3 linked regions of the Homo sapiens genome follow. The protein of the gene in region 1 purifies or fractionates together with the protein of each later gene. This does not show direct contact. Each region holds a gene or a part of one and is shown on either strand. Other genes may lie near its edges. The genes, in order: IVD, ETFB and PGD.

Region 1 (3,162 bases):
AAGCGTGCAAGTTGTGGGGGCAGAAGGGAAAGAGGTTGCTATTTGTAGTTAGACCTTCTGGTCCGAAGAAGCTGCTGGAAGGTAATAAGCATTGGAGTAAATGGTGCCTTGGGAGCCATGCCTTTCGGAGGCAGTGATGGCCACTTCGGGGTGTCATGCGGGCTGTGGAACAGCCACTCTGTGGCCCTAACTCCCACACCTGCCCCCATCTCCATCATCCTGAGTAAATCCCATCTCCTCTCCATGCCCCTGCTTCCTCATCCTTGGCTGTCTTGTTGCCATTGCTGACCTGCTTTTGGTAACTGAGAGAGTGTTCCAGCATGTTGACCTGTGACATCCCTTTGTGCCCAGTTGATGCAGGGGAAGATGGCTGACATGTACACCCGCCTCATGGCGTGTCGGCAGTATGTCTACAATGTCGCCAAGGCCTGCGATGAGGGCCATTGCACTGCTAAGGTGAGGGCCAGCCTCAGTCGGGGAGAGGCGGGGGCAGTGGACCAGCTGCTGAGACTTGCTGTCTGCGTGCCTCGCAGGGCCCTGCTGACCCCAGCTTCCTCCCGTAGGACTGTGCAGGTGTGATTCTTTACTCAGCTGAGTGTGCCACACAGGTAGCCCTGGACGGCATTCAGTGTTTTGGTGAGTGATCCCCACTTCCCAGTCCCGGGGCTCCCTCACTCCTGGGGCCTGTGGCTGCTTCAGAAAGCAGTTTCAGGGCGGGCGTGGTGGCTCACACCTATAATCCCAGCACTTTGGGAGGCCGAGGTAGGCAGATCACCTGAGGTCAGGAGTTCAAGACCAGCCTGGCCAACATGGTGAAACCGCATGCCGGGCATGATGGTGCATGCCTGTAATCCCAGCTACTTGGGAGGCTGAGGCAGGAGAATCGCTTGAACCCGGGAGGCAGAGGTTGCAGTGAACAAAGATTGCACCATTGCACTCCAGCCTAGGTGACAGAGCGAGAGGCTGTCTCAAAAAAAAGCAATTTCCTCTCCACTTCTCCACTCCTCACTATGTGCTTATGCTAGGCCCAGCTGAGCTGGGACCTTCGGGCTCTTTCTGTCCCAGTTACAAGGAGGAAATGGAAAGCAAATGAGAAAACTGCTAGATGCCAGGAGTTGCTGCTGCCTTCGGCAACACCCCCCTCTCATCCTCCCCGCCTCATAGATGCTAGGAAATGGGAAAGGGAGATGTGGCTGGGCACAGTGGCTCACACCTGTAATTCCAACACTTTAGGAGACTGAGGCCAGTGAATCACCTGAGATCAGGAGTTTGAGACCAGCCTGGCCAACATGGTGAAACCCTGTTTCTACTAAAAATACAAAAAAAAATTAGCCAAGTGTGGTGGCAGGAGCCTGTAATCCCAGCTATTTGGAAGGCTGAGGCTGGAGAATCTCTTGAACCCAGGAGGCGGAGGTTGCAGTGACCGGAGATCGCGCCATTGCACTCCAGCCTGAGTGACAAGAGTGAAACTCCGTCTCGGAAAAAAAAAAAAAAAAAAAGGCCGGGCACGGTGGCTCACACCTGTAATCCCAGCACTTTGGGAGGCCGAGGCAGGTGGATCACCTGAGGTCAGGAGTTCGAGACCAGCCTGACCAACGTGGTGAAACCCCATCTCTACTAAAAATACAAAAATTAGCTGGGTGCAGTGGTGCGCGCCTGTAATCCCAGCTACTCAGGAGGCTGAGGCAGGAGAATCACTTGAACCTTGGATGCGGAGGTTGCAGAGAGCCAATATCATGCCACTGCACTCCAGCCTAGGCCACAGAGCATGACTCCAAAAAAAAAAAAAAAAAAGCTAAATGGAAATTTCTAGAAATAGTTCATAAGTTTCAAATCCACACCATCCTGAATAGCTTGAAGTGTTGTGCCATGCTGCTCTGTCATGTTTGGTACGTGAATCGTCCCTTTGTGCAGCCTATCTATGCTATGTGGGCTACCTGCCCGTTAGTAGTCACCTAGGGTATCCAATCAGCTGTCCTGATATCAGAGTGCCTGTGTTCAAGTAACTCTTATTTTGCTCAGTGGCCCCAGATTGCAAGAGTAGTGATGCTGGCATGTCATAATAGTTCTATTTTAGTATTTGTTATTATTGTTGATCTGTTACTATGCCTAGCTCATAAATTAAACTTTCTCATAAGTATGTATGTATAGGGAAAAAAACAACATATATATGGGGTTCGGTACTATCTACGGTTTCAGGCATCCACTGGGGTCTTGGAATGTATCCTCCAAGGATAAGGAAGGACTAGTGTATTCCCCACACCCCTCCCTCTTGCTACCTTTTGCTGCTTTTCTTTAATCACCCTCTCCTCCTGTGGCCTGTTTCTATATACTTGGCATTCTGTTTGCTTTCTTTGTTTTGTCAATCACTTCCTTTCTTCTCTGCCCAAACCCTGGTTGCAGGTGGCAATGGCTACATCAATGACTTTCCCATGGGCCGCTTTCTTCGAGATGCCAAGCTGTATGAGATAGGGGCTGGGACCAGCGAGGTGAGGCGGCTGGTCATCGGCAGAGCCTTCAATGCAGACTTTCACTAGTCCTGAGACCCTTCGCCCCCTTTTCCTGCACCTAGTGGCCTTTCTTGGGAAGTAGAGATGTGGCGGCTTTCCCACCCTGCCCACAGCAGGCCCTCCTGCCCAGCTGCTCTTGTCAGCCCTCTGGCCTCTGGATGAGGTTGAGTTCTCCACAACAGCTCCCAAGCATCATGGGCCTCGCAGCCGGGCCTGTGCCACGGCTAGTGTTGTGTGATTTAAAATGGACTCAGCAGGAAGCATATTGTCTGGGGATTGTTGGGACAGGTTTTGGTGACTCTGTGCCCTTGCTCTCTAACTTCTGAGCCCACCTCCCAGGGTAGGCACCTGGGGGCATGCAGGTGCCCACCTCCCAGGGTAGGCACCTGGGGGCATGCAGGTACCCACCTCTTTCTCTTGGGTGAGGCTCTGGCAAGGAGATCTCTCTGCTCAAGCACAGCAGAATCATGGCCCCTCTCCATGAATTGGAACTTGGTACAGGTTAAGTATCCCTAATCCTGAAATCTGAAACACTTGTGGTTCCAAGCATTTTGGATAAGGCAAATTCAACTTTCAGTCTCTTTTCTGGGGGAAAAAAATAATAAACCTAGCCTAGCCAGGCGTGGTGGCTCATGCTTGTAATCCCAGCACT
Region 2 (3,655 bases), on another chromosome or scaffold:
AAAGATCCTCTTGGGCCAGGCACGGTGGTTTACGCCTGTAATCTCAGCACTTTGGGAGGCCGAGGCCAGTGGATCACTTGAGGTCGAGAGTTTGAGATTAGCGTGGCCAACATGGTGAAACCCCATCTCTTCTAAAAATATAAAAATTAGCCGGGTGTGGTATCACCTGCCTGTAATCCCAGCTACTTGGGAGGCTGAGGCATGAGAATCACTGGAACCTGGGAGGCGGAGGTTGCAGTGATACAAGATCGCACCACTGCACTCCAGGCACCACTGCACTCCTGCCTGGGAGCAGAGCGAGACTCTGTCTCAAAAAGAAAAAAAGAAGAAAGATCCTTTTGGGTGAGTTTAGAGGCTGGGAGGCCGAGGTGATGGTCACATGGGGGAGAATGAGGCCTCAGCCAAAGGTGACAGGACAGAGCAGAGACATGATGTGGCAGGAGAGACTGGGCTTAGCATGGGGAGGGAGGGCAGGGAGGAGGCAAGGACAGTGCCTGGGTCTGCCTTGGTAACACAGGTAGGAAACCCAGGAAGAACAGGAGGTTAGAGGAGGATCCTACAAGGGGAGTGTGAAGAGCCCAGGAGACATCGATGCAGGTTCAGGAGACAGGCCTGGGCTTGAAACAAAGACTTGAGAATTTTGGAGGGCACTGGGGAGCTATGGGAGTTCTATGAGCAGAAGAGGGGTGGGATCAGCACTAGGTGCAGAAAGAGCCCCCCTGGGCTTTGAGAATGGACTGGAATGGGAAATTGGAGGCCAGGAGTTAGGGAAGGAGGTTAGGGCTGGGTGAGGACCCGACCAGAACCTTCCCTGCCACACTGGTGCTCCCCACTGAGATAGGGGTACATGGAGCTCATCTGTTCCCCCAGGAGACCCTCGGGCACCACCTCTGCTCAGGGGTAGCTCATCTCATTTGAGGGCAAACCTCATGGCCTCAACCAGGGAAGGGGCAGAAGAGGGACGTCAGAAGAGCCACAGGCAGATGGGAGTGAGAAGAGGCAGGGAATTAGGGATGAGGCTGAGAAGGAAGGCCAAAGACTGCAAGGTATGTCAAGCAGAGCACGGAGACAGCAGAGCACAGCAGGCTCAGGTAGAGCTGGGGCCCCCGGAGAGAGATGGGGATCCCAGGGCCAGGTCAGTTCTGGGACAAAGAGGAGGCTGATGGGTCCAGGTAGGTCACTGGGTGTCCTGCCCAGCCCTGAGAAAGTCAGAAGAAAACAGAGAGAGATTATCAACAGCAGGGGCATCAGAGTACAGATCAGTCAACTGTGGCCGAAGGGCCTACCCGGAGAACAGGCCAAAAAGGCAGGGCCTGGGTGGGGCTGCAGAGGCCGAGGTGCTGGAAGCATGGCCTTTGCAGCCCCCTGCATTTGCTGGTCGTTCTCAGACTCCGATGTCCTACCTGTCCTGGGCCAGGGACAGTTCCTGGGGCCAGGGCCTCCAGCTGGGGAAATGCCGGATGAACTGGTCAGGATGCTGTTTGTTCTAGGAAGCAGATTCACAACTCAAACTGGCTTAAGCCAGAAAGCGAATTTATTATCTCACGTAAATCAGGGGCTTCAGGCACAGCTTGATCCAGGGTCACATATGAGCTGTAGGCTCCCCTCTACCTTGTCTTCACTGTCTGCATCTCCAGGCTCAGATCCCACCAGCCCAGTGACCCCAGCAGAAAGAAAGGAGCATCTTTCCCAAGGGCCCCAGCAAACTCCCAGGGCTGACTCTTCTTTGGTGCAGCTTGAGTCATGTGCCCCTCCCTGAACCAATCACTGGGCTGGGGCTAGAATGTCCTTGCTGGCCCAGACCCTGTTCATGCAGCTGCCCAGGGGCCACATAGGGTGGGACTCCTGAGAGGCTTTATACAGAGGGCAGAGACTTGACGACAGGGATGCCAGGTGGCCCCACATGTCCCTGGACAAGTGGCTGCTTATCTCTGGGCCCAAGTGAGGGGATCGTTCTAGACCAAAAGTCAGTGAACTATGGCCCAGAGCGACCTCTGATTTGTAAATAAAGCTTTATTGGAACATCACCACATACATTCATTTACATATTATTTATGGCTGCCTGTGTGCTACAACAGCAGCGCTGAGTCACCGTGACAGAGACCGTATGACCTGCAGAGCCTGAGATATTTACTACATCTGTTCCACCATAGAAAAGGTTTGCCAACCCGACTGGCTGCGGTGACTCATGCCTGTAATCCCAGAGCTTTGGGGGATCATCTGAGGTCAGCAGTTCAAGACCAGCCTGGCCAACATGTTGAAACCCTGTCTCTACTGAAAATACAAAAATTAGCTGGGCGTGGTGTTGGGTGCCTGTAATCCCAGCTACTCAGGAGGCTGAGGCAGGAGAATTGCTTGAACCCAAGAGGCGGAGGTTGCAGTGAGCCAAGATTGTACCATTGCACTCCAGCCTGGGTGACAGAGCAAGACTCCGTCTCAAAAAGAAAAAAAAGAAAGAAAAAGTTTGCCAACCCCTGTTCTAGACAGAGGCCTGAATGGTCCATGAGCTCCACTGATTGTCATACAGTCTTCTGTCTCTCCCCATTCAGGCCATCGATGATGACTGTAACCAGACAGGGCAGATGACAGCTGGATTTCTTGACTGGCCACAGGTGAGACTGGAGTGGGGAGCACCTGCTGAGGGCCAGGCCCTCATCCCTCAAACTTCATTTCTGCCTCAAGGCCTTTGCATTTGCTGTTCTCTCCTCCTGGAACACTGTTCCCTCGGATTGCCTCATGGCTTTCTTGTTCCCCTCCTTGAGGTCTCTGCTGAGGTATCACCTCTTCAAAGGGGCCTTCCTTGCCATCCTACGTGAAATACTCATGCCCACCCGCTCAACTCTAGGTTCCCCAGTCCCCATCTCTGCCAGTCCAATAGAAATGCAGGCTGGGGCCAGGCATGGTGAGTCATGCCTGTAATCCCAGCACTTTGGGAGGCCGAGGCAGGTGGATTACTTGAGGTCAGGAGGAGTTTGAGACCAGCCTGGTCAACATGTTGAAACCTCGTCTCCACTAAAAATTTAAAAATTAGCTGGGTGTGGTGGCGTGCGCCTGTAGTCTCAGCTACTCAGGGGGCTGAGGGAGAATTGCTTGAACTTGGGAGGCGGAGGTTACAGTGAGGCAAGATCGCACGCCACTGCACTCCAGCCTGGCAACAGAGGGAGGCTCCGTCTCAAAAAAAGAAAAAAGAAATGCAGGCTTGGCACAGTGGCTCACACCTGTAGTCCTAGCACTTTGGGAGGCCACGGTGGGAGGATTACTTGAGCCCAGGAGTTCGAGACCAGCCTTGGCAACATAGTTAGACCCCATCTCTACCAAAAAAGAAAAGTTAGCTGGGTGTGATGGCACATGCCTGTAGTACCAGCCTCAGGAGGCTGAGGTGGGAGGATCCCTTGAGTTCAGGAGGTCAAGACTGCAGTGAGCTGTGATCATACCACTGTACTCCAGCCTAGGTGAAAGAGGGAAACCCTGTCTCAAAAGAAAAAAAAAAAAAGAAGCAAGGCACATAGACAAATTTAAAATTTTTCACAGCTACATAAAAAAGTAAAAAGAAACAGACAAAATTATATTTTATTTCACCCCATTATATCTAAAATATTATTTTAACATGTAATCAACATAAAAATATTAAGATACATATGCTCTACAAGCAATG
Region 3 (2,629 bases), on another chromosome or scaffold:
TGTATTTTTAGTAGAGACAGGGTTTCACCGTGTTAGCCAGGATGGTCTGGATCTCCTGACCTCGTGATCCGCCTGCCTCGGCCTCCCAAAACGCTGGGATTACAGGTGTGAGCCACCGCGCCCGGCCAAATGCAATGAATCTTAACTCTAACAGGGAAGTAAGCTGGAAGCCGATGTATACCCTAGTGAAACAAAGTTACATTTCTCATTTCTTCAAGCTGTTAACCCTTTTCCTGTTTAGAAAAAAAGTGCAGCTCGCTGCCAGCGCTCATTTAATTTTACATAAACACGCTTTTTGAGGCTGAAGAAAATCTGACGATTTTCAATATGAAAATAAAATATAAAAACTATTCTTGGCGTTATTTCTAAAGAGAACTAATATTAGAATCATCTGAATCACCAGAATCATCTACTTCAGAAAAATCAGATTCATCAAATGAATCTTCAGCCAACATGAGAACGATGTAACGTCATGTGTAGAAATGCTACGTTTTCTATGATTTGGCATTTTCAATGAAAATACAGAGCAAAATTCCCAAGAGGCAAGGCCAGAGGGCACGATAGTTCACAGAAGTACTTTAAAAGGTGTAGTGTAGTAGGTGTAATGCGGAGCCGGGCGCAGTGGCTCACGCCTGTAATCCCAGCACTTTGGGAGGCTGAGGCGGGCAGATCACCCAAGGCAAGGAGTTCGAGACCAGCCTGGCTAACATGGTGAAACCCTGTTTCCACTACAAATACAAAAGAATTAGCCGGACATGGTGGCGTGCCCTTGTAATCCCAGTTACTTAGGACGCTGAGGCAGGAGAATCACTTGAACCCGGGAGGCAGAGGTTGCAGTGAGTCAAGATCGCATCATGGCACTCCAGTTTGGGCAATAAGAGCGAAACTTGGTCTCAAAAGAAAAAAAAAGGTGTAGTGTGGACAATCTAGTTACAGCAACTGAGGTACAGTGAAGAAGGGAACCACATAATCTAAGCCTATCTTGTGCCAGTGTCCAGTGATGGGGCTAAGTGCCCATCCCTGGAAACTGCTCAAGCTAAGTGTCCTAAGATCGCACTTCTGCACAGCCGTGTGAGTCCTTCCCGTCGGACCCTGGGCTGCCTCTCACTTACCTTCTAATGATGCAGCCCCCTCTCCACATCAGGGCGATGCCACCATAATTGAGAGTCCAGCCAAACTCGGTGGCTGCCTGCCTTAGCAGCATAAAGCCTTGAGCGTAAGAGATGATCTTGGAAGCGTAGAGTGCCTAAAGAGTGACACAGAGACCTACTAGGATTGCCATTAGGAGAGTGACCGCCTTATGTCTACCAGTCTTATTCTCATCAGCAGTGGAGATCCCAGAAGGGCCAATATTCTAGGAAAACATTGTAAGTCAAGATCCAAGTCAAGGCTGAACTTCATTCCACCTGCCATCCTGTGGCCTCGAGTGTTCTCCCACCACAACCCCCACCCCCACTGCCTTCCGCAGGACCAACAAAGACCACTGCCAGGGACTGTGTCCCACCTTCCGAATGTCCTCCAGGAATGATTTCTTATCACCATCAAACTGGAACTTCTGGGGACCCTTCAGCTTTTTGCTAGCTTGAATTCTCTCATCCTTCAGAGATGATAAGCACCGAGCAAAGACAGCTTCTCCTACATGGGGAGATCGGGAAGAGGAAACAGATTACTGTCAGGCCTCTGAGCCCAAGCTAAACTATCATATCCCCTGTGACCTGCATGTATACATCCAGATGGCCTGAAGCAAGTGAAGAATCACAAAAGAAGTGAAAATGGCTGGTTCCTGCCTTTACTGATGACATTCCACCATTGTGATTTGTTCCTGCCCCACCTTAACTGAGCGATTAACCTTGTGACATTCCTTCTCCTGGCTCAGAACCTCCCCAACTGAGCACCTTGTGACCCCTCGGCCCTGCCCGTAAGAGAAAAACCCCCTTTGACTGTAATTTTCCACTACCTGCCCAAATCCTATAAAATGGCCCCACCCCTATCTCCCTTCGCTGACTCTTCGGACTCAACCTGCCTGCACCCAGGTGATTAAAAAGCTTTATTGCTCACACAAAGCCTGTTTGGTGGTCTTTTCACACGGATGCGCATGAAAATTACCAAAGTTCGCACAGCAACCAGAAGAAAGGTGGAGCAGGAAAGTCTGTTTATACAAAGAGCTGAAAGTTTCAACCTTAGGCCACAAAAGTTGACATGGATCGGAAGGAACTTTTATAAGAAGCTCTAAACAGTTAATTTGATAACTAAAACTCTTAAGACAATCTTCCAATACAAACATGAGTATTCAATCACAAAGATTAACATGAAATTCAAAAGGGAGTTTTGAGGGAAAATGAAGAGATAGAAACCACTGTTATGGCTGGGCAAGGTGGCTAACACCTGTAATCCCAGCACTTTGGCAGGCTGAGGTGGGAGGATCACTTGAGCCCAGGAGTTCAAGGCTACAGTGAGCCATGATCACACCACTGCTCTCCAGCCTGGGCAACACAGTGAGACCCTGTCTCTAAAACCAGTAAAATAAAATAAAAACCACTGTTATGTAGAATACTCAGTGTTGGTCCATGAGTAAAATTTCAAATTCAATTTAGAGGACCTTAATTTTTTTTTTTGAAGATTTTACATT

The links.
Region 2: the proteins of IVD (region 1) and ETFB purify together in Homo sapiens (affinity purification with western blotting; one study listed by BioGRID and IntAct). This does not show direct contact.
Region 3: the proteins of IVD (region 1) and PGD fractionate together in Homo sapiens (co-fractionation; one large-scale study listed by BioGRID). This does not show direct contact.

The regions. Positions count from the first base shown.
Region 1 is NC_000015.10:40,415,727-40,418,888, forward strand, and holds part of IVD (isovaleryl-CoA dehydrogenase, mitochondrial isoform 1 precursor), read left to right. Parts: intron 1-351; coding exon 352-456; intron 457-563; coding exon 564-636; intron 637-2,403; coding exon 2,404-2,537; 3' UTR 2,538-3,162.
Region 2 is NC_000019.10:51,349,286-51,352,940, reverse strand, and holds part of ETFB (electron transfer flavoprotein subunit beta), read left to right. Parts: intron 1-2,549; coding exon 2,550-2,612; intron 2,613-3,655. UniProt on the Homo sapiens protein: Heterodimeric electron transfer flavoprotein that accepts electrons from several mitochondrial dehydrogenases, including acyl-CoA dehydrogenases, glutaryl-CoA and sarcosine dehydrogenase.
Region 3 is NC_000001.11:10,415,993-10,418,621, reverse strand, and holds part of PGD (6-phosphogluconate dehydrogenase, decarboxylating), read right to left. Parts: intron 1,636-2,629; coding exon 1,505-1,635; intron 1,247-1,504; coding exon 1,113-1,246; intron 1-1,112. UniProt on the Homo sapiens protein: Catalyzes the oxidative decarboxylation of 6-phosphogluconate to ribulose 5-phosphate and CO(2), with concomitant reduction of NADP to NADPH.